Homo sapiens: one gene and its partners. The protein of the gene in region 3 purifies or fractionates together with the protein of the main gene of each other region. This does not show direct contact. Each region holds a gene or a part of one and is shown on either strand. Other genes may lie near its edges. The genes, in order: ZNF622, URGCP, HECTD1 and SMC2.

Region 1 (7,000 bases), on a different chromosome or scaffold from region 3:
GGCTTCATTACTCAATGCCAAGGTTTCCAACAGCTGGTAAGAAGGAACTGAAAATAGCATTCAGAGCTCCCCCTACCCTGTGCCAATGACAGTGACCACCTGATATTAGCACCACGTATGATGGGCTAAGGACAGCTACACTTGAAGGCCCTCATCAAGGAAAAGTATTTTCTAGAACACAGGGTGACTGCCCAATAAATAAGGGATTGGTTATGTCTAAGTCATGGTGAAGCATGCGACCTGTCCATCTAGCTTTTGACACAGCAGTAGCCACTTATAGACCATCCACTCCTTTTTTTCTTTTTTTGTTTTTAGGAGACAGCATATTGTTCTATCACCCAGGCTGGAGTGCAGTGGCGTGATCATGACTCACTGCAGCCTTGTGACTCTTGACTTCCTGGGCTCAAGTGATCCTCCTGCCTTAGCTGAGACTATAGGCACACACCATCACACCAGGCTAATGTCCACTCCTTCTTAACAAACGGCCTTACAATTTCTGACATCCAATTGAATGGGCCTTTCATACCAACTTACTCCAAAAGAGCTGAAGAGCAACGAAGGAAACCCAAAAAAACCTTGCCAGACCACAATCTTCAAAATAAATGCTCACAGTGCCCTCTAGTGGATACTTTTTGTCATTAGCTTTGAGATAGCCTGCTTGATTTTACTGAAGTCCAATCTGAGTAACTAGATTTAGTGTCCCAGCAGCAGGGGAGAGACTCTTGTTACCCAGTAAATGGACAGAAGATGAGTTCAGGAAGCCTTCCCAGAGGGTTGAATCTAAATAAGTTGAATCTTACAAGAAAAGTAGGAATAAAAGAGGCACCACACATGTAAACACCCAGAGGAAGAGAACTGTATGTGGGTGGGGTAGAGGAATAGCACTACACACCTGAGGGACCAGAAGCGAGAGAAACTCAAAGTTACCCTAAAGGCAATGGCTCCCAGTGGAGGAACTACAGAGGGTAAAGAAAATCTACTGGTGTTTTAGAAAGAATGTTTTGGTGGTCATGTGGAAACCAGATTAGAGATGACCAGACAGGAGGGTATAATGGTGACACAGATAAATGAATACAAAAAAAAAAATACTCAAAAATACTCAAAAGACATTTAGGAGTTACTAAGCCATCTGGATGTGGGAGAGGAAGATCTCTCTAAGATCTTTCTAAGGCTAGCCAAAGCCAAAAATGGGCTTGGCTTTGGCGGTCAAAATGGGTATCTTTTTAGATACCTTAAAAAACTCAGTCACCCAGGACAAAGCTGAGGATTCTTTATTTTTTATAAGTTTCAAAAATTTAAAGTCTAGATGAAAACTTCTCTGAAACATCCTAGATTTCTTGAATAGATATGCTCACGTTATGCTAAGGTTTGTAATATATTGTGCTAAAGTAGATGCAAAATGAAGCAAACACTATAGTGATCCTACTACACGGCAGACACTGCTGTACTAGGATTGTCTTATTCAATTTACTTAAGGTCTATGGTTATCTGATTCTACCGTTTAAGAAGCAGAAGCTAAGGAGACAACAAGTCAAACATACAGTTCTGGAAAATAAGTTATTAAACATATTTCTGATGTTCTATATGGGTACTGTCACCAGAGAAAGACTAGAAAAGGTTCTCTGGGATTTAGGTTTTACCACTGTGTATTAGATAGGCCATAATAATATATTGCATTATAACCTTCTTATCACTGTAGAAAGAACTGTCATCTTCAAAATAGGTTCTGCCTGACCTTTCCTCCTATTGCCACACTCTAAAGCTGCTCTTGGCCTTACAGGGTTATCATTCTGAGCTAAAGATAGTCATCTGTACCTAAGCAGTGACATTCTATGTGGAAAGCCATAAGACAAGGCTGCTTCATTGCGGACCTCTCCACCAGCAGGGTGTGTTGTTCCTGCCTGCACCGTTACTGCAAATCTCCCAAGGCAGTATACAGATATTGGAAAAAGGCTTTGCTGATTAGGCATGTGATCCTGGTAAGTTACTCAGCCTCTCTAAGCTTCATATGTAAAATGAAGATGCTGGAATCTAACTCACGTTGGCCTATAAAGACAAATACATCTGCCTGAATGTGCTAACTGCTCAGTAAATACCAGACATTAAGATCTTATTATCATCTCTACCTTTCCATCCCCTTTCATTTCTCAAACATGTCTTCTGTAGCTTCTCCTATTCTTATCAGTTAATCACGATTCTTTCTTCCTACACAATAAACAACCATGTATGCTTCTCACATTCATGGTTATTCTTCATCTTTTCATACCTCATGGTGGCTAAATTTCCACCATGAGTCAGATACACCCACACCAAACTACCATTTGGAAGTCTGAGCAACAAAAGGAAACAGGAATCAGTTCAAAGAATAACAGTAAGGTTACAATTAACAGGAGAAACCTAGACAGGACCAAAAAAGATAAATAAATAAAGAACAGAATAGAAAAGGTCTACATCTAAAAAAAAAAAAAAAAGAAATGCCTGATCAAACATTCTGAATCATAACCCAGAAATGAACAGAAACACTGATCAAATTTAAACAAAACAGGCAACTTAGAGCTGAGCAGCAACCTTCAGGGTTTACACCGTACATGAGAACCCAAACATATACTTTAAGCTTATGGTCTATTTCCCTCAGTATGGAAAGTAATTGATGGAGATATGCTTCTCCCTCAATCCCACTGGCATTAAGCTATTTATTTTTGACAAATGCACTTACCAGAAGGCAGAATCAATTCCATGGTTTCATCATCATATTCCAAGTTCTTTTCTGAGGGCAACTCCTCAGCCTTATTGGGGTCCTCCCCTTCCTTGTGATCTGGATAGCTACTCCTATAACAGAGAAATTGCACTAATAAATAGACTAATATCTCAAATTGAACTAAAAGACATAAACTCATTTGCAAATGTGGCAAACTTCCTAAGCTACCTAAAAGGGAGAGGGGAGGAAGCAGCTGTAGGAACTACCAGCTAAAAGGTTTTGGGAGAAAACAACTCGTTAGCATTTTGTCTGTAGTAGAAATGAGCAAATGACATATAACAGAATTCTATTTGTTTTTCCCTAGAAAGGCTGTCTAACAGAGAAGAAGGAGAATGTACAGCTGGACATGCAGCTATACTCAATTTAACCACTATAAAAACAAATTATAGAACAGTGCTGTCCAACAGAACTCTGTGATGACAGAAAACGTTCTATCAATATGTCTTTGTGTCTGATACAGTAACTGCAATCACATGAGCTTTCCAGCACAGAACTTTGAAATGCAGGTAGTCTGACTGAAGAACTGAATGTTTAAATTTTTAATTAAACTTCCAATTTATTTAAATAGCTATATGGGTATACCCAGTAATTACTATATTGGACAGTGCAGTTCCACAAGAATCTCTATATTCCTAAAAATGTTGACAAAGGCTATTCATAGATACACATGAAAAAATAATTGGAAAAGTGTACATTAAATTATTAACAGTAAACCAGACAACCTAATAAGAAAATAGACAAAATGCTTGATCAGATACCTCACAAAAAGATATCCAAATGGCCAATGAATATGCAAAAAGCCTCTTGATTGCAGTAATCATCATCAGGGAGATGCAAATTAAAGCCACTACACACCCACCAAAGTTGCTAAGATGAAAAACTCTCCCTCACTACAAGTGGGAGTATAGAAAACCACTTTGGAAACCAATTTGACAGTATTTTCTAAAATGGAACATATGTATATCCTCTGGCCCAACTCCTACATATACACACAACAGATAACCTATAAACATTTGCCAAAGACACATTAGAATGATGTGGCAGCATTGTTTGTAATAGCCCCAAATTAGAAACCACTCAAATGTGTATCAACAGTAGACTAGATGTTGTGGAGCACTGAACAGAACACTCTGTAACAGTAAGAACTCTCCACAGCTATATAAAATAGTATGAATGGGTCTCCCAAACATAAAGTTGAGCAAAAGAAGCCACACCCAAGAGTACATTCTTTGTGATTCCATTTATATAAAGTATAAAAACAGGCAAAACCAATCTATGCAGCTATAAGTCAGAATAGTAGTTACTCTTGGAGAAAGGAGGGGTAGTTTCTGGAAGGACACACAAGGGAAATGTCAGGGTATTATTAACATGCTGTTTCTTGATCTAGGTGCTAGTTATATTTAAAATTTCACTACACTGAATCATGATATCACAAGTACGGTCATCCCTTGGTATCCATGGGGGATTGCTTCCAGGACCTCCCTAGGATACTAAAATTTGCAGATGTTCCAGTCCCTGATATAAAATGGTATAACATTTGCATATAACCTAAATCATTGCATACTTTAAATCATCTCTATATTACTTATTAATACCTAATACATTGTAAATGCTATGTAAATAGTTGTTACACAGTACTAAACGTTTAGGGAATAATGACAAGAAAAATAAGTCTGTGCATGTTCAGTATGGACAAAATTTTTTTCGAATACTTTAGTTTGGATGCACAGATGGAGAATCTATGACTACAGAGGGCCAGCTGTATACATATATGCACTTTTCTGTAAGTTTATTCTTCAATAAAAAGTTTCAGGTCCAAAATAAGTAAACAAGTTACCTTGTGAAGGGGAGTGAAATTTAGGTAATTTGTCATTTTTTAGCTGAGTGAATCCACATAAAATGCTTATTAGAACAGTGTCTGGCAGGTAAGCACTCCATAAACACTAGCTTTGTATGTAAAGGCTTTCTATTTTCCAAGTTTTCTTTATTAAGCATTATCAACTTTTTTTTTTTTCCTTTTTTTCCCCTAGAGACAGGGTCTCACTGTGTCACCTAGGCTGGCCTGAAACTCCTGGCCTCTGGTGATCCTCTTACCTCAGCCTCCTAAGCAGCTGGTACTACAGGCTCATGCCACCACACTTGGCTGACTTTTATTTTTTTAAGACAAACAAATCATTTAATATTCATTTTTAGGAAGAAAAGTTCATATAATTTCTCATTTCTAGGCACCAACAGAATAAAACTGTAAATGGAATGAAAAATACATCATCTGGACTAAGGGAGAACCGTTTCCATCAGTTACATATTTTAATTCAAACTAACGGTTTAAGCAACACCCAGTAAAGAACAAGAGTAACAACAACAAAAGGCTAGGGCTTGAAGCTTAGATTCTAGAAGGAGGAGACAATAAATAATATACAATACACACAATGGCAGTAGGGGATATAAGGAAAAATAAAACAGGATAAAAAGGATTGGGTAGGTGTTATTTTATGGAAGGTGGTCAAAAAAGGCCACACTGAGAAGGTGAAATTTATGTCAAGGCCTGCAAGAAGTGAGGGACAAGTCAAGTGAATATCTAAGCGAATACTATAAACAAATACAGCAGCAAATGCAAAGGTCTTGAGAAACACACTTGATGCATTAGAGGAATAGTTAGGAATCCAGAGAGCAACTAATACAAAACCACAGAACCACAGATGCTCCACACTATGTGCAGGGCCTTGCAGGCCATTATACTTTGGCTTTTACTTTGAGTAAGATAGGTAGTCTTTGAAAGAATCTGAGCAGAGTTTGACCTCACTTAATGTTTTAAAAGGATCCCCCTAGTTACAGTTTTGAGAATAGAACATAGTGGGTAGTAAGGATGTAAATATGGAGACCAGGCAGCAGGAGGCTACTGTAGGAAGTCAGGCGAAAGATGATGGTGCCCTGGACCTGGGTAGTAGCCATAGAAGTAGTGAGAAGCAGTCAGCCTCTGAAGATAGATAGTGCAAAAGCAGATAAAGCAGAATTTGGTGATCGATTCTAATGTAAGCATGAAAGAAAATAGAAGAATAAAGGAAGACTGCATGGCATTTGGCTTAAGTAACTAGAAGGACAGAGATGCCATTTACTTACAGAGAGCAGACTAGGATGCATAGCAGGAGTTGATTTTGGACAGGTTAAGTTAATGATTCCTTTTGGACACAAGTAGAAATATCAAGGAGGCAGCTGGATATCTTCAGTTTACAGCTGAGGGGAAGGCTATACTAGAGATATAAATGTGGGGGTCACGGGCCTACAGAAGATATTGAAATCTATGAGACTGGGTAGGATTCTGAATATAACCACAGGATGAGAGACTGAGTGCTGGGCATTCCAAGCCTACTGCTGATGGCAGCTGCTTAACTATCCATGGTATTTGCTTTGACCACTCTGATTACAACATCAGTCAAAAGGTCATAAACACTGCTGTCTAAAAGGAAACTTGAGAGGGATAAATACTGAAAGAGGATGCTTCCCACCACCAGCAGACATTCATTGTCTTCTCTACTGCCACAGCCTCTAATCCTCCCCTCTACCTCCACCCAGTCATGTCCACCAACTGCAAGTCTCCAGCTGCAAAATGAGAAATCAGGGAGAAAATGCAAAAGGAAGACTTAAAAGACTGAGACTTTTCTGAACATGGTATCACTTGGTCTATGCATGCCTGGCATGGTAATTATACACATCTGCTTATCTCCTGTGCTAGCTCACAGGAATTTTGACAACTAGTTGTTCACAAGTACTTAACATACATTTGCTAAATGACATACAAAAAAATTCAAGATTCTAGTTAGGGCCGGGCATGGTATCTCACACCTGTAATCCCAGCACTTTGGGAGACTGAGGTGGGTGGATCACTTGGGTCTAGGAGTTCAAGACCAGCCTGGGTAACATGGCGAAACCCCATCTCTACAAAAAGTACAAAAATTAGCAGGGCATATTGGTGCACACTAGCTGCTGGGGAGGCTGTGGTGGGAGGATCATCTGAGCTCAGGGAAGCTGAGGCTGCAGTAGGCCATGATTGTGCCACTGTCCTCCAGCCTGGGTGACAGCAAAAATCTTTCTCAGAGAAAAAAAAAGATTCTAGTTAGGGGTGAACCACCAATGGGGTAATCTCACCATCAGATGCCTGGTTTGGGCCTGGTTTAGCAACTGTCTCAACTCCTTCAGGAGACAGCTGGTGATGCAAGGACTCTCCAGGAACCCAATATGTGA
Region 2 (7,552 bases), on a different chromosome or scaffold from region 3:
TAGTGTAGTTGGAAATGAAAATCTGGAAATTTAGGATGAATAGTTGTAACATTGTTAAGGATAAGAGCCCCTTTGAAAATCTGTTGAAAGCTACAGACCTTGTGCCCAGGAAAATTACACACTACTCCCAATGCTGCATACAATTTCAGAGAACAAAGGGACCCCCAGAAGCCCATCCATGAATCATGGAGCCTAAGTTAAGAACCTCTGATTCAGACAACAGTTAAAGCCACTAAAACAGATGTGACCATGCAGAGAACATGTGTTGGGACTAGCGGAGATGGATTATAGAGCCCAAGGAAACCCCAACAGTGAAAGAGCAGGCAGAGGAGCTGGCAGACAAGGAAGATCTGGGCAGTTGTGAGACAGCCAAGCAAGGGGCAAAGACAAGAGATGAGCTGTTGAGTGAGGCCTGTTCGAAAGAGGGGAGATGGCAGCATGAGCTGCTCCCTGTCTTCTGCCCTCTCTGCCGTCTCTATACTGCTGTCACATTGATTCTCTGAGAGCTCCACCAATGCAAATAGTTTCATTTACCTTCAGCGAGTGGTGGGCAGTGAGTCCACAAACGGGACCAGGTCCCATCATCTGGTCCCAGTCTCATCCTCTGAACTTGTCTCCACTTAGCTCCAAACACACTGGGCCATGGGGCATTTCTCAAACACATCTTTTCCTTTGATGCCTTCATATCCTTTGATTGCCATTTCCTTTATTTAGCACAATGCCTGGCATATTCATAAGGTCCTCAAAAATGGTCAGCGTTTCTTCTTTCCTTCCCAACTCATGGAGATTGTCACTTAATAAAAACATCAATTTGGAGACTCCTCTATGACTAGCCCAGTCCAGATCACCAGTCCCTTCCCATCCCTGCCCTTTATCTGTGGACTTGCTCCCTAAGATACCTAGTGCAGTAGCTTAAATGTTTGCTAGCTGGCTGACTGAGATAGCCCTGAGGGTCTCAGAAAGCACTGTCTTCCTAGCTAGACTCTGATCTACCAGGGAAGCCTGTAGAAGTGGACACTTAGGAGCTATGTCTGCCAGTGTACATAATATGTGCATAGCTTACCCCACAAAATGAAATAAAGCAACAGTCATGAGTCACTTAACAACAGGGATACATTCTGAGAAATGTGTCATTTGGCAATTTGGTCCTTGTGTGAGCATCATAGGGCAAACTTACACAAACCTACATCGTAAGGTGTACTATGCACCTAGGCAATATGGTACAGCCTGTTGCTCTTAGGCTACAAACCTGTACAGCATGTTACAGTATGAATACTGTAGGCAACTAACACAATGATAAGTATTTGTGCATGGGACCACTGTCATATAACGTGGTCCTCCGCTGTCATTTTGTGGTGCATGACTTGTATACTAAAGGTTTTGAGACCTCAGCTTTTGCAATGGATATCCCGCAGAAAATTATAGATTACAAACTGCAGACTCATGGGGGTCACACAAATAATCACAACCGCAAATACCAAATGTCACCAACTACAGGGACACAGTTTAAGCCCTACTGGCTCACAGAAACACCAGTGAAGCATTAAGTCCACCTCTGACCCATGTCTACAAAGTAGTGTACTTGGGCACCAAATGCACCACTATTTTTTTTTTTTTTAAAGCTTCGTTCAGGGCAGCCCCACACAGGTTCAGCCACCCTCAACATTGCCTCCAGGAGGCTCTGCCCACCCTTTCCTGACAAGGGGGAAAGGAATGCTGCAGGACCTTGAACCCCTAGGTCAATCAGCCTGGCCTTCCCAGGGATGGTTCCCTGCTTACTCTATTCATGAGCTCAAAGTGCTGGGTAGTCAGCTGGCAATGAAAAGGCCTGGTCCCGGAAATGACCACTGCCCCAAAGCCTAGAAAGACAGCAGGCGGGGTTCAAATTCAGCTTGCTTCATTCAGGCCCACTGTACTGAGCCAAATCACCCCAGGGCATGGCTCAGGCCTCATCTGGAGGAGGCACGAAATCCATGATCCCGGCCCCTTAGCACCGTCCCCTCCCCACCCCTACCACTGAACACACACCTGTAAAGCTCTTTGGGAACTGTTCTGAATGGCTATCACAGCCACTAGATCCAAGACCCTCTGAATGATGGGTAACAGTCAAAGAAGAATTTTAACAACTAAAGCGATGACCTTGAGCCTAATTTCTTTCTTTGTAAAATGAAAGTGTTGGACTGTCATTCCCAAATTTCAGTACTAGTAAAATTATCAAAACAAAAAACAAAAAAATAATGAATTACTGAGGTTTTAGTTTGCCAAGTGAGAATTTTTTCTCAAAAATTACAAACTATATGTGTCGCCATCATTTCCTAAAAGGAATAACATTTAAATCAAAAAAGTTGAAAAGAGGTAATATCAAAATAAGCGCAGCCACCCCAAGGCAGGCCGGTAGGCAATGGCCCCGACCAAGGAGATCCCGGAGCGGCTCTCCGGCTGTCAGCAAAGGGTCTGCATCTGCCCGGATCCTGACATTCTGGGTACGTCTCAACGACGCGGCAAACAAGCGTCCACTCCCAACGCGAGCAAGTTTAAAACCCAGGAACATCGATACCAGGCGCCGGAGCGAAGCATTTCCAGGCCTCCGCGGGTTGCCCCGGGCCGCGGCGAGGACCCGCACCCCGGTTCCCCAGCCGCTCGCCGGGCCCTCGCTCCCGCCGCGCCCCGGGCACCTCCGGGCCTCGCGCCCTCCCCGGATCCCCTAGGCCCGCGTACCCGGACCCCCGCATCCCGGGGGACCGCTGTCCTCCGCCGGCGCCCCCGCCCGCCCCCCACGCCCGCGCGGCCGGTCCGCCCAAGGTCGGCGCGAGCGGGCCGTGGGCCTGGTGGGCCTGGCGGGCGGGGGCGCCCCTGGCCGGGTCCGGGCCGCATCCCAGACCAGAGCCCGCAGGCCAGAGCCGCTCCGGGTCCCGCTCCCGTTCCTGCCGGCAGCCGCGGGGGCGCAGGGCCTGCGAGGCGGCACTCACCCGGGCGACGCCATGAGCGCAGCGAGGTCTCCGCTCCCGCCTCCTTCGCTTCCTCCGCGCGGCCGCGGCTCGGCGCCGGGGAGGGGCCTGGCCCGCCGGCCGCCCGCCCGCTCCGGGACGCGCTCCAGGGGTGGAGGTGGGGTGAGGTGGGGTAAGGTGGGCCCGGGGTCCTCTCGGAGCAGCCCGGGGACAGCTGGGGCGGGGTGGGGGCGGGGCGGCCCAGGTCAGCCCGCAGCCCGCCCAACGCCCACCTGCCCAGGTGCCTGGAGGCCGGAACTCGCCGGGCGGTGCCTGCGGTGCCAAAAGCTGTAGGATAACCTGCCCCAGGGCCTTACTGAACTTCACACCTTTCTGTAATTGGAGTTTAATTTCTGTAAGAAAAGGCTTTTCTTTAGCCCTGAAGCGTAAGGCCTTATTATTAAGCAAAACAATAACTTTCCTACTTCTTACTTGCAGTGCTGTGTTGGACGAGTTGCTGGCCTCTCTGAGACGGTACCCATTGTAAAATGTGTATAAAGTGGCCTTGTGAAGCTCTAGGCAATGCGAAGCACTTTTATTATTCTTTATAGTGTGTTATTAAGAAAAATAATGAATCTGCAGTTCCTCCAGTGAGGTTTCACAACTATTCTTACAAGTTATGAGTCCTTAGGCAGGTAGATTTTTCAGCTTCAGTTCTTCTCTCTGCAAAATGAGTTTCCAAAAATGATCTAAGTGAAAATGCTTAATAAAAAGCTCTGGACAATGTAAACCATTGTTGATAACATTTTTAGTATTATATTAAATATCACTGGCCGAACGCAGTGGCTCACGTCTGTAATCCCACCACTTTGGGAGGCCGAGGCAGGAGGATCGATTGAGCCCAGGAGTTTGAGATCAGCCTGGGCAACATATTGAGATGACCCCCTGCCCGCCCCGCCCGTTTCATTTTTAAAAATAAAATTAAAGTTAAAAGTAAAATATCATTAACAACCACTATTTAAAAATGTTTACTACTATTAAGAATACAAGACAGCAAAGCAGTGATTAAAACCTTAGCTCTGAAGCCAGAATACCTGTGTTGGAATCTGGGCTCCACCAATTACCAGCCCCAGGAGCCCCTGCAAGATAGAACCTTTCCAGGGCCACAGTTCCTTATTTGAAAAATAAGGCTAAAAATAAGTCCCTTCCTCTCTGTGAAGATTAAATGAATTAATATTTGTAAACATTTGTAACTATTTTTAAATGTTAGTAAACATTGCGTGATGCATGGTCTCTTTTCCTCCTGGGAGAATCCAGTCAATGTTTCTGAGCCTCCTTGTCCTCTTCGGTAAAGAAATTCATAACTGCTACCTTGAGTTCAGAAGATAATTAATGCTCTGTAAATGGGAGCTGATAGGTAAAGCCACGCGAACTTGTGACACCCAAAATAAGGACAAATCCAGGAGGACCAGAGTTAGGAAGAGTTTGAGGAATGGGAAATCCTAAATCCTAAATGCCTGATTCAAGGGAGTAATGAAATGAAGGAGATCAAACTAAAAGAATTTTTTCTTTGTTTGTTTGAGACAGGGTCTTGCCCTGTCACCCAGGCCAGAGTGCAATGGCGAGATCTTGGCTCACTGCAACCTCCACTTCCCGGGTTCAAGCAATTCTGCCTCAGCCTCCCAGTAGCTGGGACTACAGGCGCCCACTACCACACCTGGCTAATTCTTCTATTTTTAGTAGAGACAGGGTTTCCCCATGTTGGTCAGGCTGGTCTCAAACTCCCAACCTCAGGTGATCTGCCTGCCTCAGCCTCCCAAAGTGCTGGGGTTACAGGCGTGAGCCACCATGCCTGGCCTAAATAAGCATTCTTTTAAACATAAGGAATACATGTTTACTGACATAAAATCTGGTTCAGAAACCAATAACCCCAAAATATGGCACTTTAACAAGCTGAACTGAAGAAGTCTCAAGGTCTCTCTGATCTCCCTCCCCACTGGTTTCTCCCAAAACAGAAAATGTCTTTATCTGCTTAAAGTCCAGACCCTCCAAGGAGAACAACTGTTTTTCTTGCCCTCCCTGTAAGACCAAGAATGTAACCACACCTGAAAAGACCCTTTCATAGGATAGCGTACAAGTTAATCTCTGTGCCCTGATCCATTCCTTCTCCCTAGTAATCCTTTATTGCCCCTTGAAAGAATTCCTCTTTCTCCCCTCCTGTAAGTTGTTTTGCCAAGATGGTCTACAAGCTTCTGAACCTTGTTGGGTGGTGGGAAATCATTCTGTAATTCTCCCTGTGCACACATTCATAAAATTTGTATGCCTTTTCTTCAATTAATCTGCTTTTTGTGAGTTGATTTTTCAGTAAATCTTCAGAGGGCAAGGAGAAACTTTCCCGTGGCCCGTACACTTAACATGAATTTTAGCATCCCACTATATGGTTAGACCATCATGTTTAACCAACCCCTACTGTTGGACATAAATATTGCTACCAGTATTTCATTATTATAAGGAATGTGAGTAATAAATATCCTTATAGCCAAAACATCCCATAAACATCAATGATTATTTCCTTATGCCAAATTTTGAAGAGTTGAATTTCTAGATCAATAGGATATCAGTATTTTAAGGCTCTTCTGAAACATATATACTCTGTGTATGTGTATGTGTATACCTACACACATACACAAACACACTAATATACATATACTTAAATACATAATACACATACACACATATGTATACATATACCTACACACATATATACAGACACACAAATATACACATACACAACATATACACACATATATACAGATTGCCTTCCCAGCACAATCACCTGATAGTCCTAGTTTTCCAAAACACTGTGTAACTTTTACAATTTTTCAAAATCATTGCCAACTTCATAGGTTAAAAACCAGTATTTTAGGCCAGGTACGGTGGCTCATGCCTGTAATCCCAGCACTTTGGGAGGCCGAGGCGGGTGGATCACTTGAGGTCAGAAGTTTGAGACAGCCTGGCCAACATGGTGAAACTCCATCTCTACTAAAAATACAAAAATTAGCTGGGTGTGGTGGCGTGTGCCTGTAGTCCCAGCTACTAAGGAGGCTGAGGCAGGAGAATTGCTTGAACCCAGGAGGTGGAGGCTGCAGTGACTGCAGCCACTGCACTCTAGCCTGGGTGACAGACTATCTCAAAAATAAAAATAAAAAATAATTTAAAAAATAATAATAATAAATAAAATTGGCCAGTGCTGTGCCTCACGCCTGTAATCCCAGCACTTTGGGAGGCTGAGATGGGTGGATCACTTGAGGCCAGGAGTTCAAGACCAGCCTGGCCAACATGGAGAAACCCTGTTCTCTACTAAAAATACAAAATTAGCCGGGCGTGGTGGCACATGCCTGTAATCCCAACTACTCGGGAAGCTGAGGCAGGAGAATTGCTTGAACCCGGGAGGCAGAGGTTGTGGTGAGCCAAGATCGTGCCATTGCACTCCAGCCTGGGCAACAAGAGCCAAACTCTATCTCAAAAAAAATAAAAGACACCCTGTTACAAGAGACATATAAGAAAATTGTAGGCTGGGCATTGTGGCTCACACCTATAATCTCAGCACTTTGGGAGGCCAAGGCAGAAAGATCACTTGAGGCCAGGAGTTCAAGACCAGCCTGGGCAACATGGTGAGAACTGATCTATTTATTTGTTTATTCATTTATTTATGAGACACGGTCTCACTCTGTTGCCCAGGCTGAAGTGCAGTGATGCAGTCATGGCCCACTGCAGCCTCAACTTCCCAGCTCAAAGTGATTCTCCCATCTCAAACTCCTAAGTAGCTGGGACTACAGGCATGTGCCACCATGTCTGGCTAATTTTTTTTTTTTTTTTTTTTTTTTTTTTGTAGAGACAGGATTTCCCCATGTTGTCCAGGCTGGTCTCAAACTTCTGGGCTGAAGCAATAACCTGCCTCAGCCTCCCATAGTGCTGGTATTACAGATGTGAGCCACCATGCCTGGTCCCATCTTTTTATTAAAAATTTACACTAAAATTTTTTTTCAAAAAGTCCTGACATGGTGGCTCACACCTTTAATCCCAGCACTTTTAGAGGCTGAGGTGGGAGGATCACTTGAGCCCAGGAGTTTGAGATCAGCCTGGGAAACATAGTAAGACCTTGTCTTTACAAATAATAAACACAATTAGCCAGGTGTGGTAATGCATACCTGTAGTCCCAGCTACTCAGGAGGCTGAGATGGTAGGATCTCTTGAGCCTGGGAGGCTGAAGCCACAGTGAGCCAAGATTTCACCACTGCACTCCAGCCTGGGTGACACAGCAAGACTCTTTCTCATAAAAATAAATAAATAAAAAGAACATTACATATTGATAAGAGTCAATTCACTAAGAAGACATAACAATGATAAACATGTATGCACCAAACAAAAGATCCCCAAAAAATATGAAGCTAACATTGACAGAATTAAAGAGAAAAAATACAGACTTCTACAATAAAAGTTGGAAACTTCAATACCCCACTTTCAATAATAGTACAATCAGACAGGAGAACCATAAGAAAATAGACAGCCTGAACAGCACTATAAATAAACTGGACCAGCCAGTCACGGTAGCTCACACCTGT
Region 3 (7,034 bases):
TTAATTTCTTTTAAAAATCTGGCTCTGTGTGGGTTTACTAATTCAAAGTCTTCCCAAGTCAAAATTCCATTAAACCAAGCTGGGGGTTTTGGTTTAGGGGGATCAAGAATAAATTCTGATTTTGAATCCTCTTCAAAGCTTCCTACCGAGAGTGAATCATGACCTTCTTCTGTAGAAGCTTCAGACTGACTTTCAGTACAGTGTAAGTCTCTATCACCTCGTGACTCATAAATCAGTTTACTCATATTGCTTTTAATGTCACCCATACACATAAGTTTAAAAAAAGGTTTAGAAATAGGTAAGTCCACAAGTCTATTGTCTTGAATGCATTTGGCCAAGAAAATTCCAAGGAAATGAAACAGTTTCGTGATCCTTTCAAGCTCATCACTATCCTGTGGAAATGGTGCTGTGAACAGTCCACATGACCTCTGCACATAATATCCAGGAGGTTTCAATCCACCTCCAAGATCAACCTAATTTTTTAGAGGGTGAAATGCAAATAAAATTAAACAAAAGTTAATAGAAACTAAGCCTATCATCATCTAAGAAAAAAATCCATAAACATTAAACATCTTCATGAATTTGGCTATCTAAAAGTATATAATTTTATTAAATAGCTTTTGGTGACTAAATTTTATCGCTTTAGAACTATTTTAATTGCATCAAGATTATTCAATAATAAAAGTAGAGTCAGAAACCTGGCTTATGCTCTGAACACATAACCTATTTTTAACACTTTTGAAAGCAGAGTCACAACTCAAGTCACAAAATGAGAAATATTCTTACGTGACGAGATTCATCATCTGGAAAATTATCATCACAAAGCCAAGCTCCCAAGTCAGTTCTCTGGAATTCTGCTGCCACCAGAGCATAAAACTCTAATGTGGGTCCCAAGCCAGTTCCTTCTTCTCCTAAAAATTCAACCTAAAATATGAACAAATAAATTGTGGGTTAAACGTAAAGTTTGGGGTGTTTTTAAAAATAATCTAATTCTTGTCAAAATTTATCATATCTGATCCAGTAATGTACCTTTTTTCAAAATAGCAGTGTATATATATAATAAACAGCACAGAAGTGTTATTTTAATTTTCCTAAAGAGTCCACTTGTTGTACACTATTACATGCTTAAGCACTGTGCCAAGCATCATTCATACATTTACTTCTCACAACAACCCTGCAAAATAATTATTTCCTTTTTACACCAAAGGAAACCAAATCTCAGATAAGGAGGTTAAATCATTTGCTTGAAGAAATGATGGTGAACAGACTTTTGTGTGTCTCTGTGTGACACCAAAGCCTAGACTCTTCCACTTTTTAATTTTTATTTTTTGAGACAGTTTCACTCTTGTCGCCCAGGATGGAGTGCAGTGGCACGATCTCAGCTCACTGCAACCTCTGCCTCCCGGGTTCAGGCGATTTTCCTGCCTCGGCCTCCCAAGTAGGTGGGATTACGGCATGCACCACCATGCCTGGCTAATTCTGTATTTTCAGTAGAGACAGGGTTTTACTATGTTGGTCCGGCTGGTCTCAAACTCTTGACCTCAGGTGATCCACCCACCTCAGCCTCCCAAAGTGCTGGGATTACAGGCATGAGCCACTGCGCCTCGCCTCTTCTGCTTATTTCTGAGTTAAAGACACTTTAAATCATTTTTGCAACAGGAAGAGTATGGACAAAAACCCTTAAAGTGATTGCATAAAGTATAATAAAAACTACAGCATATGGTTAAAAAAAAAGATTATCTATATTAGAAGAATGTAAACAACTGGGCATGGTGGCTCAAGCCTGTAATCCCAGCACTTTGGGAGGCCGAAACGGGTGGATCACTTGAGCCCAGGAGTTTGAGACCAGCCTGGGAAACATAGTGAGAACTTGTCTCTATTAAAAAAAAAAAAAAAGAAGAAGAAGAACATAAGGGTAGGAGGAATACAATGAAAGTCTGTATATAAAGTGAAAGATGTAAAGCCTTGGACATCTTCTAGAGATGTATCATATTTCTTGCAATTAGTTTATGATCCAAAAGTTAAAAACAAACCAGTTGGATTCACCCCTGTGACAGGAGACGTATTTCCACTCTTCCTCATATAGGGAATACTGTGTATATGAAATAAAACCAACAATGTCCACAGTAACATTTCTAAACTAAATATATTAAATGTCATACTACCATTTGCTATAACATGTCTCAACACAGACCAGTGATATAATACCAAGCACAATTCAAGTGAAACAATATTACAAAACCAGGTGCTCCCAAAATATCAAACAGCACAGTTTAATGTAAAAGTAAAAAAGAATCCCTTGTGAGTACTACTATTTTAGTCCAACTTTGTTATGAAATGGGTAGAAGCCCTCAAGCAGAACAAGCACTTTGCCACCTCAAGAGTGGAGATCTTCTTTGTTGCTCATTAATGGCACAAGACCTAACCCCTAAGGAGGTGGACTGACATCCTCTTATGAAAAAGATGCTCTGCCAGAGGAGAAGGCTTCTGCCTACAGAACAGGAAAACCCCTCTTCATGTTTACCTACCACAGTTTTTAATGCAGTGAAGATACACATTGGGCTGGTTCCCTAAGTGTCATTCCTGTTCCCTAAATCTAATTTTATATGAGATTACCTCAAGAACTGATTTCCGATCTGCATGTATTTGCATGACATTCTCAGCCCATTCCATCAGTGACTCGCCACGTGGAACTTTTACTCTTTCATGCTTGAGACGACCAACTCGAAACTCTCCAGGGTCATCTCGCCTAACACTGCTTGTGGTTCTCGTTCGCTCCACAGTGGCTTCACGTCGGTTCTGTAACCATACTATTGCTCTGAAATAGAAAAATATCTATGAGCTGCAGCATACGTTAACAGCTGAATGTACTACTAAACCAGCAACAGAATTCAAAGATTTAAGAAATTAAAAAATAGTATTTTATCAGGTGATTTTTAAAACACAGTAATCTTTTTTTGTTACATAAACTGCTTCCTGTCACAAGTAAAAATATATGAAACTCCTTTTATTATAATCTGCCTTAAGCAAACTGAGAAAGTACTGGGTCTATATTTTGCCTCCTTATTTTAGCAGTTCAATAAAAATAATAATCTGTTGTCCAAGCCCCAACATCATTCAAAAAAAGGAAAAATGTTTCCTATCAGAGAAATTTAGAAATGATTAAGCTATCTTTCAAACTGAAAGCCGCCATCAAAACGGTAATTATAATTTTAAAACAATTTTTCTTTTTTTTTTTTGAGATGGAGTCTTGTTCTGTCACCCAGGCTGGAGTACAGTGGCATTATCTCGGCCCACTGCAACCTCCCTATCCCGGGTTCAAGTGATTCTCCTGCCTCAGCCTCCCCAGTAGCTGGGATTACAGGTGTGTGCCACCACGCCCAGCTAATTTTTGTATTTTTAGTAGAGATGGGGGTTCTGCCATGTTGCCCAGGCTGGTCTTGAATTTCTGGCCTTAACTGATCCACCCGCCTCAGCCTCCCAAAGTGCTATGATTACAGGCATGAGCCGCCACACCCGGCCACATTTTCTTTTTTTTAATAACAATCCATTTATGGTGGGAGGAAGAACCGACAATTAGGAATAAGAAGCTGAAGGTTCTACTCTCATGTGTGCTACTATTTTCTCATGATCTTAGGCAAATCAGCTAAGTACGTGCAGAATCAATTTCCTCATTTATAAAACAAATTATAATCAATGCCAGTTATCACAACATGCCTATAGTTCTATGTATATAAATGCTTTGTAAATGGCATTAAATGGTACAAAAATGTAACTATCAGGGAAGAAAACAAACAGTTTAAATTATAACTTTTTTTTTACAACTATTTTGGAAGAGTACTTAAGGTAAACAATCATTCAACAAAATATTTATTGAGCACCTACAATGAGTCTTGCTCTGTTGCCCAGGCTGGAGTGCAGTGGTGCAATCTCAGCTCACTGCAACCTCTGCCTCCCGGGTTCAAGCAAATTCTTATGCCTCAGCCTCCTAAAAAGCTGGAATTACGCCCAGCTAATTTTTGTGTTTTTTTGTAGAGATGGGGTTTTGCCACATTGGCCAGGCTGGTCTCGAACTCCTGGCCTCGAGTGATGTGTCTGCCTTGGCCTCCCAAAGTGCTGGAATTATAGGCATGGGCCACCGTGCCCAGCCTGAAAACAGAAACTTTTTAAATGCTTTTTTTTTTTTGGTAAATTACTTCTTCCATGATTAGAGGGACTATCTTCAAAGTAGTACAAATATTTCGTAAATAATATCTGACCATTTTCTAACCAATTGAGTAATTTGTTGCACAATAAGCCATCTCACATCTTTCAGCAAGAAATACATTAAATTTGAATAGTAAAGACATTACACAATTAGGCTTAGGACAAAATTAAAATTTGCCTGAAGTATTTCTTTGGGGGAGAGGACACCACACTTCTACTCAAGGAAGAGAAACATTTTTACAGTCCAGAGGTCTTTTATTTTTATCTTTATTTTTTATTTTTTTGAGATGGAGTCTCGCTCTGTCGCCCAGGCTGGAGTGCAGTGGCACAATCTCTACTCACTGCAAGCTCCACTTCCCAGGTTCACGCCATTCTCCTGCCTCAGCCTCCCAAGTAGCTGAGACTACAGGTGCCCACCACCACACACAGCTAACTTTTTGTATTTTTAGTAGAGATGGGGTTTCACCACGTTAGCCAGGATGGTCTCGATCTCCTAACCTCATGATCTGCCCGCCTCGGCCTCCCAAAGTGCTGGGATTACAGGTGTGAGCCACCGCGCCTGGCTATTTTTTTTAAACACTATTATGCATGAATTCACAGAGAAGAGGTTCCAGCAGCTCAGACTTCTTTCCCTTGGTTTTCACACAGCGCGCTTCTCTGGGTGGAACAGGCTGGCACTTCAGCTAAATGCAGGTACCTTTCTCTTTGGCTTCCTTCTTTTTCTGATCATTTTCCTTCATGTGTTTCAGGAAGCTATCTCGGCTCTTAGAGTGCTTAATGTGCTCAATATGCACATTAATTCTCTTGGTAAGAATCTTGCCCTTGTTTGTTTACAACAATGCCATTAGCCACGCGTGGTGGCGTGCACCTGTAATCCCAGCCACTCAGTGGGGCTGAGGCAGGAGAATCGCTTGAACCTGGGAGGCGGAGGTTGCAGTGAGCCGAGATCACACCACTGCACTCCTGCCTGGGCGACAGAGCGAGACTCTGTCTCAAAAAAACAAAAACAAAAACAAAAACAAAAAAACAGCAATGCCAACAGCCTGCTGGGTAACACTGTAGACTCTTCCAGTTTAGCCACGGTAACACTTGTGGGGCATTCCTTTTTGAACAGTACCCATTCCCTTAATGTCTACAGTATCACCTCTCTTTTAGATTTGCATATACGTGGCCAAAGGAACAACTCCATGTTTTCTAAAAGACCTAGAAAACATCTATCGGGTATCTCTCCTCCTTTCCTTTGGATTAGTCATTTTGGCGAATTACTAGAAGATTGGTAGTTCAGGCCAAAAGGCAATGCTGACTATTCTTTATAAGAATACAAGATAATATATTCCCTCTATCAGTCTTGACAGTATAGTTGTACATTTTCAACTTACATAACATAAAAGCATACTTATTCTAAAAACATAAAAAAAAGGCTTCTTACCTTGAGGCGCCAAATGCTGTACATGTGAAATAAAGCTGTCTAGTTTCAAATGGTATTAGAAAAGGACATTTGCTGGTTAATTGTTCACACCAGTCTGGCAGAGCCCCACTTGCCAGTGCCAATGGTTCCTGCGAATTAACAAATAATAATGTCTTAGTGCTATAAGGCATTCATGCATGCATGCATTCATTCATTCGTTCATTTTTTTTTTTGAGACAGAGTCTCACTCTGTTGCCCAGGCTGGTGTGCAGTGGTACGATCTCGGCTCACTGCAGCCTCTGCCTCCTGGGTTCAAGCGATTCTCCTGCCCTAGCCACCCAAGTAGCTGGGATTATAGGCATGTGCCACCGTGCCCAGCTAATTTTTGTATTTTTAGTAGAGACTGGGTTTCGCCATATTGGCCAGGCTGGTCTCGAACTCCTAGCCTCTAACGATACACCCACCTTGGCCCCCAAAATGCTGGAATTACAGGCATGAGCCACCACACCTGACCCTATAAGGCAATTATTAAAAATTACCAAGTCAATTATAAACCTGTAATTAGGAAATAAATGCAAAGGACCATATAGCTCAAATTACCAATCAGAGGGAAGGGAAAGATGGTGAGAGGTAGAAAAGAAAGTAAAGGGAATATTAGGAAAAGTCCAACAGTAATAGAATGAAGAGTTCAGCTGTCTGATTTTATTACCTCAATCTGCTGTAATATTTTTGTTGTAATTTTTTTGCTAGTGAATTCATCTGGTGGAAAAGTAAACTGAGGCTGTTCATCACCATCTATAAAATTAATTAATAAAATTAATAAAAATATAAACTGACTTGCTTTAAAACTGCTATAGAAATGAAACAAGGCTTCTTACAGACCTTCCTGGGATATTCTTGAATAAGGGTCACTTGCAACTATATATAGAATACGCAGAAGCTGAAGGACATCTTCTACTCCACAAGAGTTCTGTCCATTGCCTGCTTTGGCCTGAGGTTGTTCTTTTGTTAAATTAAGAATATCACTACTTTGAAGAGTAGAAATGGCCCCCTGGTTTAACCCAGACTTTGTTCCATGCTCACAAAAATCCTATAGAAACAATTAGAAAAACTGGCCATTAATCACATTTTCAAGAAAAACAGTGTATCATTGTATCAATACCACTATGAAAGGGTTGGAATTTTTTAAAGTGCCTTCTTTTTAAATAAAAACATAACACAAGACATAAATCAAGGCATTCTAAACCATTAAAATTCCCAAATAAAATATAACCACTCTAAGCCATGGTCAAAGTCTGCATTCAGATCCAATGCTACCAGCCATATTTGAAATTTTAGAATTTGTGCATTAACAGTGTTAATTCAACCTCATTTTTAAAATTATGTCTCAATGAACTGCTGTTCCTTAAGAAGCTTCCAA
Region 4 (7,034 bases), on a different chromosome or scaffold from region 3:
CTCTTATCAAAGGCCACTTTTTTGGCATTATCCATATTGTCACAAACAAATGTTGTTCCAAAGACAAACTCCATTGCTTTCTGAAGTTCTGGTTTATATTCAACCAAGGAAAGAGCCACATGAACGTTGTCAGGGCCAACCTGTGGGACAACAACAGATATGCCACAGTACATACTACTACTTTTCCTTTCAGATATGATTTTATAAACCAGTAAAAACTGCTGTAATAGAAACTTAAATAATACTTACCTAGCATTAAAACTCTTTCTGAATTTTCTAAAAAGCTATGTAAAACTCAAAGTTTCAGGAAAAAAAAACTGCAGGTTTAAATACTGAAAGATTTATTGCTAAGTAAAATATTTATTAATAGCTAGTATGGAGCATTATGAAAGTTTCTATCAATAAGGAGCCATTACCATGTTTCTAAGTGTCCTTCACCAACGTTGACTGGACACAACTTTAATTATAGTACAGATTGAGTATCCTTTATCCTAAATGCTTAGAACAGAAGTGTTTGTTTTCAGATTTTGGTATATTTGTATTACAGTGGTTGAACTTTCTAAATCCAAAATACTCCAATGAGCATTTTTTGGGTGTCATAGTTTTGAATTTTGGAAAATTTCAGTTGTTGGACTTGGAGTGCTTAACCTATAATTTCCAGATCAACACAACTATATGAAAATGTTGTTTCAATAATCAGGAATTTGATTTCACAACAAATATTTTCTCATACAAATGAAACATGCTAGAGCAGTCGTCTGCCAGTTACAGAAATGAAAACACAATAACTGAGAGTAAAAGTAATTTAAAAAATCCCCAGTCCTCTATTTTGATCACAATGCTTCTTCTCAGCCTTTGTTTATAGAGGCTACCTCTGCCCATCATTTAAGAAAAACTAAGCATCTCTTTTAGAGCTTAGTATCAGCAGTGGCAGTCACAATGAAGGAAGCTCTATGTAACACATGTTCAGTATTGTTCTTTGATGTGGCAGCTACCATCAAATAGGTTTGGCTAAAGGATTTGAGGCAAAGTATTTTTGCTGTTACTTGAAATCCCAATTTCCTTCTAATGCTGGGACTCGATGTATGGCTGAATTAACTTCCTGAGCCTTCTTGACTTAATGGTGAGTTTTCAAGTAAAGAAAGTACCAACCAAAAACATCACCTTTCAATTACTCAGCACTCATCCTCCCTCTCCTGATAGTATACATATCAACACAACTGTATTTTGAAATCATTTGCATTGAAATCTTCTGAATGTAACTAAGGATACAACAACATCCACTTAGTTACAAGTATATTTTTAAGTTTCATAGAAATGTCTTTTCAACTGATGTACTTGGAATGTCTGATCAATAAAAAAACTGATATTACAGCTGAATGTTATGACTGACTTCATGTTTTTACAGTATTACACAACTACAATAACTTTTAAATGTATTTCCTTGTACTAATCTATTTTCTTACTAGCAAGCATGTCACTTTAGATCAACGTCAGCAGTTGAATGGGATCCTGGTCACCTGCTATGTACCTGCACAGGCTGAATAGCAATCTAGAAGAACTCTAATAAAGAAGCATCACTGCAATACTAATGAAGGCCTTCCATAATGGCTGTGACTGTGGGCAGTTTTAGTATGCCTGACATAAAAAGAAACAAAAACAAAAACTTGAAGAATTTGGGGTACGTATCTAGAAGCTCAGTTCTAACCATTCAGGAATCAAGAGTGTAATTTTCACCATCACCTGATTGATAGTCATGTGACTTAAGGTTAAAAAGGACATTCTAATACCACAAAGTGAAGCATCAAAAGGAGTTCAAGTCTTCCAACATCTCTATTCTCTTATCATCTAATTGCACAAGCCAACCCAATTTTTTTGTATTTTAATTTTGTGGTTCTGCATATGATTATGTCCCTCAAAATTAATGTCTTCTAACTTAAAAAAACCACAGATGACGATTAAACATATAAATAAGACAAAATGAGACTTACAAGATTCTGAGCAACTCTCAGAGTTTCTGGTGCAATACATCTGGCTGAAATTTTATTGAGTGGAATTATAGTGTATCGACGTTTCAGTTCCCCCCTTTCTAGTAGCTTTTTACCAGTAACCTACAACACACATTTGAATTTAAAAAACGCATGTTAAAAATGACAGAAAATTGAGAGAATGCAAGTTTAGTAGTCTATAATAAATGAATGTTTAGTGCCATTTATCCCAATCAAGTTATAATTACATATGCAATGGAACATCATTTGAACTTGAAAAAGGAGATGCTGCCATTTGGGACAACATGAATAAACCCAGAGGACATGATGCTAAGTGACATAATCAGACGAAGAAAAAATAAAAAACTGTATGACCTCACTTGTACATGGAATCTTTTAAAAAAAAAAGCTGAACAAATAAAAAGAGTAGGATAGTGGTTATCAGGGATGAGGAGTGAAAGAAAATGGGTAGAAGTAGGTCATAGGTCAAAGGGTACATATTTGCAGTTGGGTAGGATAAATAAATCTACCTATTCAGAGATGTAATGTATAGCATGAGGACTATAATTAATACTATATACTGAAAATTTGCTAAGAGTAAATTTTAGGTGCTGTCACACACAAAAAAGGTAACTATGGAAGGTGAATGGCTATGTTAATATGTCTGACTACAATAATCATTTCACTATGTATATGTATCAAAACATCTTGTACGTTTGTTTTTTTCTTTTTTTTTTTGAGATACAGTCTTCCTCTGTTGCCCAGGCAGGAGCGCAGTGGTGCAATCTCAGCTTACCGCAGCTTACCGCAACCTCCACTTCCCAAGTTCAAGCAATTCTTGTGCCTCAGCCTCCAGAGTCGCTAGGACTCCAGGCGCACGCCACTACGCCTGGGTAACTTTTGTATTTTCAGTAGAGATGGGGTTTTGCCACGTTGCTGAGGCTGGTCTCGAGCTCCTGGGCTCAAATGATCTGCCCACCTCAGCCTCCCAAAGTGCTGGGATTACAGGTGTGAGCCACCATACCCAGGCTTCTTGTACATTTTAAATATATATATAAAATAAATTAAAAAAAAAACAAGGAAGTAAATTTGACAATGACTACGTAGCATTTACAGGAAAGAATATGAGCATTCTACAGAAGGATAATAAGTGAGAACTGAAGAAATGTAAATAAATTCAATGTTACCTTGATGGGAAGACTGACATCAAAAACAGGTCATTTATTCCCAGATTATTTTACAAATTAAATTCAACTTATACAGCAAAGAGATCCCAAAAGTTTAAGATTGGTAATATGCATTCTGAGTTTCTGAGTAAGCATGAGACCTCCTTTGGAATAGTTATCAAAAAGTTATGAACCAAATAGTTTTACCCTATAAATAAGTCACCTTAGGGGAGAGCCTTAAAACATCAAAGTATTTAATTCTTTTAGCAGCACATGACTTTTCAAGCTAACCAAATTTTAAATTTTTTAAAATTAAAATCAACTTACTTCTGTGTCTACTACAACATTGTAGAGTCGTTCTCCAGCCACTAATTCTAAAGCTGTGGTTGCAGAAGTGTCTTTCACACTAATCAGAGAAGCCACAAGTCCTTTCACACAATTTCTATTCCAGTTCTTCTCTGGATCCCTGAAATACAAAAGTTGACAAAAATTAATCTTAGATAATAAAGTAGAAAAAGTTATACTTTACTCATCAGGAGCTCTTTTGGACAACACATTAAAGTGAAATGAAAGTAGAATCAGCAAAATGGTTTTAACAAACCAAAAATTTTAAAATGTCCCAAATGACTAGCCAGCTGTTGTTTTTAAATCACAATAGATCTTTCAGTATGTTTCAATGTAGTAAGAACAACTCTGATGTTCTAATCCCTATAATACATATGATTACTGTAAATATTCCATAAAAAACCCACATAGCAAAACAAATTATAAGATGTAAATGTGGATATTTAACATTAATGATACAGTAACTCTGAAGACATTTTGAACTGAGATTAAATTTCCCTCATTTTAAGATTAGTGGCATCATTAGCCATTAAATTTCACAAGAATTTCCCTGCCAACATTTAAAACATTTCAACAAATGTTTAAAGGAAAAATACCAATGAAAGAAAAGCAGCTTACAACAAGTTTCATACAAAAATCTTGGTTTCGACAAAATTTTCACACTGCTTCCAGCTTAAATAAAAATGTCTTGATTATTACTATGTTAAAATTCAAGGCTTAAGTCTCTTACTTGTATGCAAATCGAAGATTGGGAAATCTGGCTAATAGAGCTTCATATGTTTCTTTCAATCTACCAATATCACGAGACAGCTGCCTGCGCTTTTCCAAAAGGCTTTCCTCTTTATTTTCTGAAGGATAAATCATAATAAATTAAAACCAAGTTTTAAAAGCTCACTCTACTGTTTTAAGGAAAATATTAGCAACCACTATTTCCAAAGCATGCAAAAAATACAAATTTCTGTAAGTATTAAAAAAGCATGCTGAACCTTCCTATTTCTATCCACTGTCAAACAGACATTATTTCCAACGGCAAATAACACAATTTTCATTCCAAAAAATAACATACAAACTGAATGCCTAATGTAGAAATACACAAATGACATTTTTGAGCTTTCAAATGATTGAAGCAGGAAATTCTCAATACTGAGTTCTCAAAAATTCAAGAGTTGTTTTATAATTAGGTATTTTTTGACGATATTTACAACACTTCTTATACTAATGCTTGTTAATAGGCTAAGAAATGTTTCCTACTTGCTTGCGTTCTTTATTTAAATTAGCTTTTTATCAAAAATCACTACCTCCTCATGATCTGATTATCATGTTTTTAAAGGCAAACCTTCATAATTTAGCTTTTTCATTTCAGCTTCAAGTTTTTCTTTAAGTCTTTTTACAGCTTCTAGAGCTTCTTGATCCTTCCTGTAGCCACTATCCATCTTCTTAACTTCAGCTTGTTTATTCTTTAATTCCTGTTGAGCATGCTTCAACTTCATCTGAGCCTGTGGCAGAAAAATGCAACAGACCATAGGATGTATGAGGCAGACAGTGCTAGTAATTAAATGGCCGAAGATTCAGATTGGTTTTACTAAGAGACCTTAACCTTCAAAGTTTAATTGTTTGGTCTCTTGGATTAGTATTTCAACAAATTAGTCATTTCCCAGTATTTTCTCCTCAAAAAACTACTCAAAGTATAAACTAATATATGATTAATATGTAAAAGAATTTGAAATTTAAGTCCGTATTTTTAATAAAATATGACATATTCAAATTGAAGGATTATATCGAATAACTGTCAGTAGCTGGTAATTAAAAAAAGAACGCTAGAAATCACAACTCTCGTTCTTTTCCTTTCCGCTTAGTTGTTCATATTTGTATGTGTATATATTTGTGAGTGCTATCTAATAACAGTAAAGAAACTGAATTGAGCAATAAGACGTAAGATTATACAGGAAAAGAAGCTAAACTGACAGAGAAACTTAAATGCTGAGTCTGATAATTAAATGCTAGAACTATTTAAATTACATGTGTCAGGCCTTCAAGAATTTATACACTTGAACACTGCTTCTTAAAACTATGAACTAGTATTCTAAAACCTAGATGGGGTTTTAGATGGGGGTATCCTCCAAAACTGTATAATGATGTATTTTTCCCAGTTCCCTTATAAAATAATAGACAAACTGAGAGTAGAGTACTTTAAAGCTTTTCTACTATTGAGAGTTCTTATAAATTTGTGACTATCATCTGTCATGCCTGAATGAAAAAGTTGCAAATATATAAAGAGAAAAACCTGAGGATTAACGCATAATCACACACATTTGTGTACATGTTTTAAAATCTGTGTCTTCCATTAAAAACAAAACAATGATGTGCCTGTGTACATGTATTTTTTCTGCTAGCAAAATTCTTATGTTCATAGGACTGTAAGTTGCACTACTATGTAAAATCTGAGAAACATTATAATAGACTGACAAGACTTTTAAGATTATGAAATCAGAGTAGGGAGAGCAGACTAGAATGTGGCTACATGTGAGGTAGAGATACTTCCTAAAAAAATGTAAAGTTTGAGAAACAAGGTTTTAAGAACTAGGTATGGCAGGCAAAGCAATGGGGAGGACAATCCTGTTTTCCTGTTAAAGCTTAAGACTTCAACATTATGTTATCAATAAAAAATAAAAATAGCCAAAAAGAGACAAGAATAAATGCATTAATCTCGAAAATTCCACACAATGCTGCAAACAGAACAAAGCATTTATTGCACTTACATACCGAATTAAGATAATTTATGTAGTACAGCATCTTCACAAATTAACATCACCAATATTTAGCAATCAACATATTTGAATTTCGCTGCATTAGGCATTAGAGTTGCAGAATAAAGTAAACAAACAAGTTCCTTGAGACTGATTATTTTCAACATTATGTAACAATTGCCAAAGCATAACATGAAAAGAAACTTCTTGGAAAAAAAAGCAATCACATAGTGCTAATGTCTCTATTTACCTGTTTGGCTTCTGTCTGAGCTTTACTTATATCATTTTTACAGGCCATCATTTGACCAGCAAGAGTTGCTTCTGCTCCATCTTCATTACTGGACAGGCCAGCGGAAACAGCATTGAAGTGCTGCTGTGCAGCTGCCAGAGCTTCAGCATCTTTATTACTTGCTTCTTGAAGGGCATGCAGTCCATCTGTTATCTTTTTAACCTCTTTTTCCTTTGCTGCTAAAGTTTTTGAGTCCTTTAGGAAGAGTTTCAAATGGAAAAATATTATATTTCAGGAAAAACACCCACTTTCTTATACGCATACCCTTATGTAATAAAATTCCATAGCAATTTGGAGTGAGCATAATAAAATAATTTAACCATCATAACTTTATAAATACTGAATTATCATTTTGAAATTCACTCTCAGTTTTTAGAATAAATATAACTCTTATACTACTGGTTCATTCCATGTTATAAATTAAATCCATGAGACATTGGGCTAAATAATAATTGCAGATTTAAACAAATCACTTGAAGGGACTAAAAATGAATTTCTA

The links.
Region 1: the proteins of HECTD1 (region 3) and ZNF622 purify together in Homo sapiens (affinity purification with mass spectrometry; 4 studies listed by BioGRID, with this or other methods). This does not show direct contact.
Region 2: the proteins of HECTD1 (region 3) and URGCP purify together in Homo sapiens (affinity purification with mass spectrometry; 4 studies listed by BioGRID and IntAct, with this or other methods). This does not show direct contact.
Region 4: the proteins of HECTD1 (region 3) and SMC2 purify together in Homo sapiens (affinity purification with mass spectrometry; 3 studies listed by BioGRID, with this or other methods). This does not show direct contact.

Annotation. Positions count from the first base shown.
Region 1 is NC_000005.10:16,455,801-16,462,800, forward strand, and holds part of ZNF622 (cytoplasmic 60S subunit biogenesis factor ZNF622), read right to left. Parts: intron 2,830-7,000; coding exon 2,717-2,829; intron 1-2,716. UniProt on the Homo sapiens protein: Pre-60S-associated cytoplasmic factor involved in the cytoplasmic maturation of the 60S subunit.
Region 2 is NC_000007.14:43,903,593-43,911,144, forward strand, and holds the start of URGCP (up-regulator of cell proliferation), read right to left. Parts: upstream 3,005-7,552; 5' UTR 2,984-3,004; coding exon 2,970-2,983; intron 1-2,969. Other genes in the region: URGCP-MRPS24 (uncharacterized protein LOC100534592), read right to left, coding at 2,970-2,983. UniProt on the Homo sapiens protein: May be involved in cell cycle progression through the regulation of cyclin D1 expression. May participate in the development of hepatocellular carcinoma (HCC) by promoting hepatocellular growth and survival.
Region 3 is NC_000014.9:31,106,781-31,113,814, forward strand, and holds part of HECTD1 (E3 ubiquitin-protein ligase HECTD1), read right to left. Parts: intron 6,705-7,034; coding exon 6,497-6,704; intron 6,410-6,496; coding exon 6,324-6,409; intron 5,764-6,323; coding exon 5,636-5,763; intron 2,819-5,635; coding exon 2,617-2,818; intron 925-2,616; coding exon 787-924; intron 474-786; coding exon 1-473. UniProt on the Homo sapiens protein: E3 ubiquitin-protein ligase which accepts ubiquitin from an E2 ubiquitin-conjugating enzyme in the form of a thioester and then directly transfers the ubiquitin to targeted substrates.
Region 4 is NC_000009.12:104,111,277-104,118,310, reverse strand, and holds part of SMC2 (structural maintenance of chromosomes protein 2), read right to left. Parts: intron 6,731-7,034; coding exon 6,497-6,730; intron 4,996-6,496; coding exon 4,836-4,995; intron 4,348-4,835; coding exon 4,230-4,347; intron 3,621-4,229; coding exon 3,482-3,620; intron 2,112-3,481; coding exon 1,992-2,111; intron 141-1,991; coding exon 1-140. UniProt on the Homo sapiens protein: Central component of the condensin complex, a complex required for conversion of interphase chromatin into mitotic-like condense chromosomes.